Regions from separate parts of the Homo sapiens genome. Here regions 1, 2 and 4 are each linked to region 3. Evidence: fine-mapped expression QTL. A gene starts in region 3. Each other region holds a variant in brackets. All regions are shown on one strand. Distances are between the middles of the regions.

The links. PIP is the estimated chance that this variant, and not a neighbour inherited with it, causes the effect.
Region 1: its variant is fine-mapped to the expression of ZFP37 in pancreas (GTEx, PIP above 0.99). The same link has a PIP of 0.9 or more in whole blood.
Region 2: its variant is fine-mapped to the expression of ZFP37 in whole blood (TOPMed, PIP above 0.99).
Region 4: its variant is fine-mapped to the expression of ZFP37 in lung (TOPMed, PIP 0.91).

Annotation. Positions count from the first base shown.
Region 1 is chr9:113,100,383-113,103,072 of GRCh38, forward strand. No RefSeq gene overlaps it. Among named protein-coding and RNA genes, the nearest start is that of FAM225B, 9.9 kb to the right of the region's middle. The variant G/C (reference allele first, on the strand shown) is at 1,583.
Region 2 is chr9:113,089,881-113,092,570 of GRCh38, forward strand. No RefSeq gene overlaps it. Among named protein-coding and RNA genes, the nearest start is that of FAM225B, 20 kb to the right of the region's middle. The variant A/C (reference allele first, on the strand shown) is at 1,378.
Region 3 is chr9:113,055,506-113,058,195 of GRCh38, forward strand. ZFP37 (ZFP37 zinc finger protein) reads right to left here and starts at 1,219. Exons shown (of 4, transcript NM_003408.3): 1 at 1,052-1,219. The coding sequence starts at 1,183. RefSeq lists an enhancer at 850-1,419.
Region 4 is chr9:113,095,409-113,098,098 of GRCh38, forward strand. No RefSeq gene overlaps it. Among named protein-coding and RNA genes, the nearest start is that of FAM225B, 15 kb to the right of the region's middle. The variant A/G (reference allele first, on the strand shown) is at 1,535.

The DNA of each region.
Region 1 (2,690 bases), 45 kb after region 3:
ATCTCCATGTGCTTGATACAGTCCTGGGAGCTCCCCTCCATGGATTCCTACAGGCCATGCATTTTATGTAGGTTGCTCACTGCTATCTAGTGAGCATCTAGTATCCCCAGCATCTAGTGCTTAGCATTTATGTGGTACTCAGGAACCACTTAGGAAACCAAATGACCGATGGGAGGTGTATCTGGGGATAGGGCTTGCCCATCATGTCTTGGGATGGACCCATCCTAAAAGGGGAGGGAAGGAGGCCTGATAGGCATCCAACTCAAACTGTCCAGTGGAGGTCACTAAAGACTTCACTCTGGAACATGAGCTCTGCCTTCATGGCTTCCAGAAGACAAGAAGTAGAAGTGTAACCTCACAAATTAGGTCCTGGAGGACACTTCTGGGTTACTAGAGCTTCTTTCAGCCCTTTCTGATGGATCCCCCACCTCTGCCTCAGTGGGCAGTGATTGGCCTTGTGAGTCTTTGGGGGGCTGCTGTGTTCAGAAGTGACCCTGGGCCCTCAGAATCTCATGCATGCTGTGGCTTTAGAATGTACTCAGAGAGGTGTTGACTGAGCTGGGCCTGCTGCAGATGCATGTACCTTCTGTGGTGTAACTCTGTGGAGATGAAAATAGTAATAGTAATAACAATAATAGTAATACTATTAACTACTGTACAAATTTTCCATGGCCACTGCAATACCACCACAAACTTTGTTCTTAAAAGAACACCCATTTATTATCTCACAATTCTGTAGGTGGATTCAGAAGTCTGGATGGAATCTACTGGACACTCTGCACATGATCCCCAAGGTTGAAATCAAGGCTGCAGCTATTTGGGCTCCTGTCTGGAGATTCTGGGGGAAAATCAACTTTGAAGTTCATTCAGGATGTTGGGAAAAATCAAATTCCTTACACCTACAAGTCTGAGGCAGGTTTTCCTTTTCTGACTGTCAGCTGGGAGCTGCCATCTGCTCCTCTGGGCTTCCTGTATTCTCTCTAACATGGCTGTCTCCATCTTCAAAGCAGCAACAACTTGTGGAGTCTCTAACTTGGAATCTTTCTCTGCCAGGCAGAGCAAGCTTTCCGTTTTTAAGGGCTCGTGTGATTAGATTAGGCCCACTGAGAAGATCATTTTCTGTCAATGGATTAGTAACCTTAATTGCATCTGCAAAATCCCTTTGGCTACAAAATGTAATATAGTCAGGGAAGTAACAATAGGGGGCAGAAAGATATGATGGAGACCAAATTCAGCTTGCTACCACTCGAGTCCATTGAGGTCACTCCATGTACTGGCCTCAAAGCCTTCAGCTTGAGCCTGCAATTTTATGTTATAAAATAAAACTATTATACATGTACATGAGTACCTTTTGTTCTCCAAAATATAAATTCTAAGAAATACTATCTGCAAAATAAACATATAAAAAGAAAGTTCAGGCCGGACGCAGTGGCTCACGCCTATGATCCCAGCACTTTGGGGGGCCGAGGTGGGCTGATCACGAGGTCAGAAGATTGATACCATCCTTGCTAACATGGTGAAACCCTGTCTCTACTAAAAATACAAAAAATTAGCCGGGTGTGGTGGCACATGCCTGTAGTCC[G/C]AGCTACTTGAGAGGCTGAAGCAGGAGAATTGCTTGAACCAGGAGGCGGAGGTTGCAGTGAGCCGAGATTGTGCCACTGCACTCCAGCCTGGGCGACAGAGCAAGACTCCATCTCAAAAACAAACAAACAAAAAAACAAATTTCAATCAATCTGACTAATTATTGAACATATTTTTATTCCTTTGCTGCTAAGGTCATCATTAGTTCTAGGCTTTAGTGAATATACCCATGCTTACATACATACATTTCAGTTGATTAGGCAACTTTAAAATATATGAGTCGCCAGAGTTTGTAAAAACCATTTTGCCACTTTTTCATGAGAACCTAGTTCTCTTCTTACTTTTCATTGAGGAAAATATTCACATTTTATAATGCTCACCCAGTAGGCAATAAAAATTGCTGTGTGTTTCCTATTTATCCCTATCTGAGTGGGGGTCTTTATCATCATTACCTTGTCTCCACAATATACACAGAGCCACATCCAGCCACTATGGGGAAGAGTACACATGACCAACCCCACGTTCCAGAACACTGATGTGGATGCATTACTAGATAATACTTTGGCTGGCTCCTAACATCTTCTTTGGAGATATAGTGAATGTGCTCTACCTGAGGGGGAAAGAGAAACATGAATTTTGGTGACCTAAAGACCACTCTGCAGTAGAGTCTATGCTATATGTTCACCAAGCCCAATTCACTTTCCCCTTGGACACAGCAAAATATTGCATCCCTTGCAGTTAGTTGGGGCCCCATGAGTGAGTTTGCTCAATGCAACATGAAGAAAAGTCATGGATGCCATGTTTGTACTTGGCTATATATATTTTCTGTATGCAATCCTCCTGTTTCTCTTCTCCATCTGTAGCAACAATGGAGACTACATGTCAAAGAAAATGTAATCATTAAAAATAATTTTCCAGCACCCGCCACATTGACATATAGAACCCATTCTAGCTCATTCATAGCCCACAATAGCAACTAGGAATTATCTGTTGTATCCCAGGCAATGCTGTGAAAACTATAAGCAAGACCCCCTTCCTGGATACATCTGGGACTCCGTTGCTCCCCTCCAAGGTTTGATCAGAGAGAGTGGTAGTGAATACACTTCTAT
Region 2 (2,690 bases), 34 kb after region 3:
CGCCAGAAAGCAAGCAGGCGAAAGGAAATGGAACATCCGCAGGGCCGGTGCCGTGGGATCCGGTCACGCCCTGACGGCTTTCGGGGACATCTCAGGCTCGCTGTCTCTGCCTTGGACCTGGCGCAGAGAGGAGTGAGGCCTGAGGACAGGGCTGCGTGGCCAGCTGGGTGTGGGAGGTGCCAACACAGTAAGGGCTGCTCAAGGGGTGGCCGGGAGCGATACGGGGGGGTTGCTCAAGAAATCACCGCTGGAACTGGGATCCAGTCATCCCACTTCTGGACGTATCGCCTAAGGACACGAAATCGGGTTGTGGTGCAAATATGTGTCCTGCTGCATTGGTTGTCGGCACGCTGCCTGTAACCAAGACGTGGAATCGACCGAAGTACCCTTCAGCAGATGACTAGAGAAGGACAAATGAATAGGGTTCGTAGAACAAACACATCAGGGAAAGGAAAGGAAAGCCTGTCATCTGGGACGTTATGCATGGACCCAAAAGTCATGGTGCCCAGTGAAATCAGCCAGGCCCATCCGACCCGTATTGCGTGATCTCCTTGTGATGTTGGATGGAGAAAATGCTGTGAGGATCAGGAAAGTAGAGAGGAGAAAGGTGGTTGGCTGGGCCTGGGGCCGGTGTAGGGGCAGGTGTAGGGGCAGGGAAAGGATGCCAATGCGAGATGTGGGTCAAAGGGCACAAAGTTTCCGAGAGACAGGTGGAGTGCTTCCTGGATATCCGTGGCAGGGCAACGTGAGTACGGTGGAGCAGAATGTAAGGTTCTCGTGAATATATCCACGGGAGTAGAGCTGAAAATTCTCCTGAGCGGGGACAGGGGACGCATGTGTGGTGATAAGTGTGTGAATTCGGCCGATTCTAGTGAATTCCCTAATGAAGACGTCACACACGGTTAGTGTGTATCATATTTATTGTCGTTTAAACTGGACTGATCCAGCTGCCGATGGGTTCCTGTGTTTATCTCTACAGCCTTCTTCTTTGCTTTGTGAGCACGTGAGTCAAAGAAAGAGCTCAATTGTCGGCAGGAATCGGGTAGAAACTCAGGAAGTTTGGGAAAGGAGATTCAGATATTTGGGGCCCTGCCTGTTTTTGGCAAGCCATAGAAAATTTGTTTCCAAAGAGCTGTGCCCAAAAGGGAAAAGCTGAAAAGAAATTTTAATGTCTGGAATGCTAGTGTCATGGGATTCATTCATGGTCTTAAGTCTTTTATATACATCTCAAGGGCCCTCCAAACGAGTCAGCATGGATTGTAGTGTGGCCTTTCTAGAGGGTTTGTTGTTCAGCTTGTTTTCTGAGATGCCCGGAAGATAATTATTGTCTAATATGGGGAGAAAAGGGCATCCTGGTGCAATGTTGCTGAGATAGTC[A/C]ATTAGGCCAGTGGTGGTAAGGAGCAATGTGGAAGCTGTTTAATTAATAATTAGTGGAACTGGGATCTAAGCATTCCCATCTGGGCATACAGCCTAAGGAAATCCATGTACACAGTAAATATGTACGAGATTATGTTGGTTGTAGGCTTTTTCTTTTTGTAAGGTACAAAATTTTCCTAGGCATCAGTGGAGACATAAAAAGGAATACTATTCACATTTTTAGTGGAAAATCTGTCATTTTTGACTTCATGAATAAACCTGAAGTTTTCCTGTCTAGTGGGCAATCCAGGCCTGTAATGTTGATATTGCGTGATCTCACTTGTATGTGGGATCAACAAAGGTGAAAATTATAGAAGTTTAGAGTGGATAGTTGGGCTTCATGGCCTAGGGCAGGGGCAAGATGGGCATAGGGAGATGTTGGTCAAAGGATACAATTTATCAGAAAGTTAACTAGAGATTTCTGGATATTTATGACATGGCAATGTGAATATAGTTATACATATGTATTGTACACTTGAAGATGGCTATGAGAGCAGATTTCAGAATTCTCAGCACAGGATTCGAAGCATGTGAGGTGATAAATATTAATTAGTTTGACTTAATTCCCAATGAAGATATAATTCATATATATATATGTATATATAACTATATATATTATTTTCTTTAATGAATCTGGGAAAAATATTACATTACCAACAAAGATGAGAATGAAAGAAAGAAACACACTAAAAAAAATACAACATTAACAGGGCTGATCTGCAGTTCATGTGTATTGATTTACCACCTGGATATTTTGATCTATATCTGAGGTTCTCTCCAGCTTGTCCTTCAATATTGTAGATGCACTGGTTGCTCTGTTGACCCCAAGCTGTCTACCTGAATGTCACCCATCAGCTTCAGCTGCTTTGTGCAGCGCTCTCATGGTTTCTATCACATCTGTCTTCATAAGAAAGAAGCAACTATTCCAAGACACGCAGTGGGACATTCGCCTTCCAACTTTTTCTCCAAAGTTTACCAAGTGTTCATCACTAGCTAGGGGGACAACTTCCAACTTTAGGTTAGAGTAGATGAGATTCTATTGTAAAAACTTTATATACCTCAAGGAAGTGTGCATTTTGGGGGAAATAGGCTGCAAACTTGATTATTACCAACATGTGTAGTCATCCCTCTTGCAAGTTGAAATGAATGATTTTTTAATTAATTGATTCTCTATATTAACTATATTTACTTTGTTTCTTCATCAGTGTGAGATTTCTTTTCAGACTAATAACTTGAAAGTGTGATGATATTCTTTACGCAGTTTGGATGACTGA
Region 3 (2,690 bases):
GCAGGGACTGCAAAACAACAACACCAAACAAATAAAATAAAAAATACCCCCTGGCATAAAATAAATGCTCATCTTACAGACTGTTCCTACTGTTCCTGCAAGTTTTCAATCACTGACACCCAAATACTCCCCAATCACTAACCTTCACAAACTTCTCCCAATTATGGATCTCTGCAAGTTCCCAACTATCACTCTCCACAGAACAATCATTAACCTCCACAGATCTCCAATCACTGACCACCAAAGAACCCTCAATCATTAAATGCAGCAATCCCCTCAAACTCCTGACCCCCTTAGACTTCTAGTCACAGAATCATAGAGGATCTTCAATCATTAATTCCTACTAATCACCTCATTACTCAAAGCACAGTTATTACTGCTAGACACCACCTAATTATTGACCTGCATACATCCCCAATTACCTTTTCTCCCCAGATGACATACAAATCATCTACCATCCCCAGAGACACCTCAACATTGACTCCCCAAACTCCAACAGTCATATTCCCCCCTCACTGGCCCCCCGATTCCTCCATTACCCACTGACCCTCAAAGATACTGCTAATCAAACTTCCACAGACATCACCGTCACTGACTCCCAAGCCCCAATCTCTGATGCTCCCAGATGCTCCCAATCACTGAATTTCCCAAATCCTAACACTGACCCTCTTTGATAACCCAGGCTCTAACCACCACAGGCACCCATAATCGCTGGCTCCCATAGACATCCCAAACCGCCAACCCCCACGGTCCTTCCCTATCTCTGACACATCACAAAGCCTCCATTTCTGATCTCCTTCCAAACTCCGACACTCGGTGACTGCCACAGACGCCTCCCCATCATTGTCTCTGCAGATCCCTCCTAATACTGATATCCTAAAGCCAAATCATTAACCCCACAGATAACTCAGAACACCGACCTCCCAAAAGACCATCTAGCATCGATTCCACCAATTCCCAAATCACCTATCGTCACAGACTACTCCAATCACTGCCCCGCAAGTACACCATCTCTGACCGCCAAAACACCCTGTCTCATCACAGCTCTCACCGCGGCGCTGGCCTCGGGCTCGGACACAGCCATCTCCAGTGGTCGCCCGGCCTCTTTGGTCGTTTCCGCACTTCTCCTCCGGTCCACGGTCTCTGGCTTTGTCAGAATCTGGACGCCGCTGGAGACCGACATGGCGGCTACCCGGAGGGCGGCCTTAGCGGGTCCGGCAGCCGCGATGGCGGCGCCCTTCGGTAATAGCGCACGGGCGCGGCCATCTTGGCAAACACTCAGCCGTACAGCGGAAGTGCGGGGACTTCTGGGACAATTAGATCGGGAGGTGGAAGCTGGCGAGGGCGTTACTTGCAGGATGCAGGAGTGATGCGATCAGAGCCAGCCGGAACCGAGTTCCGTTACGCACTACAGGACTGACCTGGGCCTGACAACCCACTGCCGGAGTTCGGATCGCATCACTGCCGGAAGATATTTTACAGAATTTGGAATTGCTTTTCCGAATACATGTCAGTGCGGCCAGCGGCTAGAAGTCCGGGAATCACAACGCTTAGTGCGGACTTTAGAAAGGCAGGATGCGAGAAATTGGAAGCATAACGGAGAAAAGCCTGATCGAACAAATAACATTATTTTATAGGGAGAGGACGTTAATCTTTGAGATATACGATAAATCTTTTCATATATAGTATAAGAACAATAAGAAAAACTGAAACAGAAACTTAAGTAAACACACCACTCCTCCGTGAGAGCCCGGGTTTGGTGAAGATATTTCACCAGAATAATCAAGCACTTGGAGAAATAATTCCTTAATGCGCCATTTCATGCATTAATTGCATTCATTGAATATGTGCAGGTTAGGTGCTGCGCTATGCAAGGTACTGGAAAAAGAGTGGAGAGGGGTAGGGATGATGTAAGTCCAGAGTCCAAAGGCCAGAAAACCAGGGTCTCCAATGTCAAAAGGCAGAAGATGAATGTCCCAGCTCAAGAAAAAAGAAAAGGTGGGAGGGAAGTGGGGATACTTAACGGGTTTTTAAAAAAAAAGAAAAGAAAGAAGGAATAAGACCTAGTATTTGATAGCACTACAGGTGTATATATCCAATAATAATTTAGTTGTACATTTCGAAATAACAAAGTATAAATGGATTGTAACACAGAAGATAAATGCTTGAGGGGATAGATACCCCATTTTCCATGATGTGATTATTGCACTGTGCATGCCTGTATCAAACTACTTCATGTACCCCATAAATATACTCACCTACTATGTACCCACAAAAGTTAAAGATTAAAAAAAAATAGAAAAGAGGATTCACCCTTCCTTTTCCTTTTTGTCCTTTCAGGCCCTCAGTGGATTAGGTGGTGGCCACCCACATTGGTGGGGGCTTTTTTATTCAGTTTGCTAATTCAAATGCTAATCTTTTCCCAGAAACACACTAACAAACCCAGAAACAATGTTTCACCAGTTTTCTGGGCATCCTTTAGCCCAGTCAAGTTGACCGATAAAATTAACCATCACCCTAACCATGATATACACAGACTTCCAGGTTACAGAATCTGTGAGATAATAGGTTTGTGATACTTTAATCCACTAAAGCTGGTGATAATTTGTTATCCAGCAATACTAAACTAAGGACTCAGTGAAGACTGAAAAATAATTGATGGCTTGAAATTACTCTTCACCTACTTAAGA
Region 4 (2,690 bases), 40 kb after region 3:
AGAGTGGCAAATTCAGAGATGTGGGTGAGGCAGGATAGGCAGTCAAGGAAGTAGCAATGTCCTCAGGACATGGCAGCCATGATGGTACAGTCAACACAATAAACCTCAGCATTCGCATTGTAGTCCAGCTCATTCAAGCAAAGCTATCTCTAGTAGGGAATTTCCCCTGCAGAGAGTATGTGCATTTTGATTTCACCTGTCCTCAAACTGACTCTTTGCTCATTATAATAGTAAAAAACATACCCCTGGGTGGAGATTTAAGATGCTAATGAGATATGCAATCTATGAACAAATATGTACTGCTACTGCATCTGTGCACCCAGAAAACCACCCAGAATATGCTTACTAGTAACAACTTTTCCCAACCCCTTATGAATAATCATGTCCAACTCCCATAAAGGGAGTCGCCCTAGTGCCAGTCTTTACTGTCTCATTCTTACGAATAGCCCACCCTGAATCCTCTCTCCCTCAGGGTGTACTGTCTATTCTGCACTTAACTCTCAAAATATTCTTTTTCTTTTGCAATAAACTACTGTATACTGCATTTACTTCGCTGTGTGTCTCTTGTTTAAATTCTTTTTAACTAAGAAGGCAAGAACTTGAGGTCCCACAACAGCTGTCAACATGGGAAAATGGGACATCACTAAGCCTGCCAGTCAAGACTATCCCCATTCTCCTCCAGGACACACTTTTTGCATCTTGTATCCTATAGGCACCTGCATGTGCTTCCTTTTGAGGATAGATGTATAGAGCAGTTACATCAAAATCCATGGTGTAAGGAGCAAGATAGAGCAACCATGAAAATGTACTGTCTGAGTCCATTTGACAATGGACTATAAAAATACCACAAGCTGTATGGCTTATAAACCACAGAAATTTATTTCTCATAGTTTTGGAGACTGCACAGCCCAAGATCCAGGTGGATTCAGTGTCTAATGAGGGCATATCTTCTCACTGTAACCTCATATGGTGGAAGCAGCTAGCTAGCTCTCGGTGTTCTCTTTTATAAGGGCATTAATCTCACTCATGAGGGTTCCACCTTCATGACCTAATCACCCCACAAAGGCACCACCTCTTAATAATACCATCATCTTGGGGGTTATGATTTCAACCTATGAATTTTGGGAGACTCACACATTCAGACCATAACACACATATTGTTTAGTGCCAGGAGCTGAGGGAAGATGTTTGTCCGTCTGTCTGTCTGTCTCTCTCTCTCTCCCCACGGGCTCAATTGAGTCATCATTCATTCTTGCTTACATACTTCTGACCTCAGACTGGATTGAAGTATCCCCTCACTTTCCTTCTTTTCATTATCACGACTGGGTGCCTTTCTTCAATCACAGCACTGTGTGATACTGGATCCAAGATTGTTCATGGATCATATTTTGCCACCCCCTTTGCCTTCTACTCACAGAACACACTCGGATCCTTCTATACTCAGAACACACTTGGGATCCTATTTTGCAACCAGTACCTGCCTTTGTTTTTGGACCTCACCACCTCACCTGACCCCACACTCTCCCAAGATCTC[A/G]AATTCTCACCAAGTTGACCTGCCCATGGGTTCCATTAATTCATTGTTTTGTTTTCCTACGGTAACAAGGCTTTATGGGAGAGGCCCACCCAAGTTCCAGCTAAGCAAGGTCTTGGACAAAGGCCTCCTCCATTGGTCCATGAGGGGCCCTAAATGTAACCTAATGAGGGGTTTAGAAATCTATTCAGTGAAGGGTCCTCTGGGAAGGGACAAAATGTGGCTCGGTAAGGTACTCAAAGAATGGATTATCAAGAGGCCCAAGGGAAAATCTAAACCAGAAAGACTGAAAACATCTAGAACATACAGTTGGGCAAGAATATGGGAAGATCAATTCTGGGGGGATGTGTCCTTCATGGACTGCTGCACACTCTACACTGCTCAATCCAGGGAACTTCATCCTAGGAAGTCAGAACCAGACATTTGACAGTCTTGTGACTGGAATATTATCAGAACTAGTCTCAAGACTTTTCCTTTTTTATCTATGTCCTCAAAAGTTTTTAGAAGCCCAAATTATGTGGCTTGGGATACACTTTTTGAAGTCTTCAGATACAAAACACTGTTTAACAATCCCCATTCCCAACCCCTTCCCCAGTCTAAGTTTTGTTTCTCATCAACCCATGTATGATTCAAGGGCTGACTTTATAGCTGTGCCCATGAAGCTTCTTAGAAGAAACCCTCAAGCAGGTCAGACAGAAGAGGTGATCCTGGACAAGATATTATCAACAAATCAAGAGAAAGAGGACCTTAGGATACTCATAGCAGAAGGAGATAAATTAGGGGTTGCAGGATTGGAGCCCATTCACCCTATGGAGAAGAGTCATCCAGCACAGGAGAGGTGATTGGCAGAAATTCTTGGTACAAGATGCCCAGTTCTTGCTATGGACTCTTAAAGCATATCTTAAAAAACATGAGGCATTTGTTTCAGTGCTTTTATCCAATTAAACAGAGAAGAAAAGAAAAGGCTGGCCAGGAGCATGCCAGCCTTTTTTTACAAAGCGCAAGCCCACCAGAAATCAGGGCTACCTCTGCGGACAAAAGGATGCTGAAACTCAAAGAGCAAGTCAGTTATTTGGCCAGAGCCTAAAGAAAACAATAGGGCTGAGAAGTGTAATTAATGCAAGGGAAAGATGTCCACTCACTGAGGAACTCAGTGAGT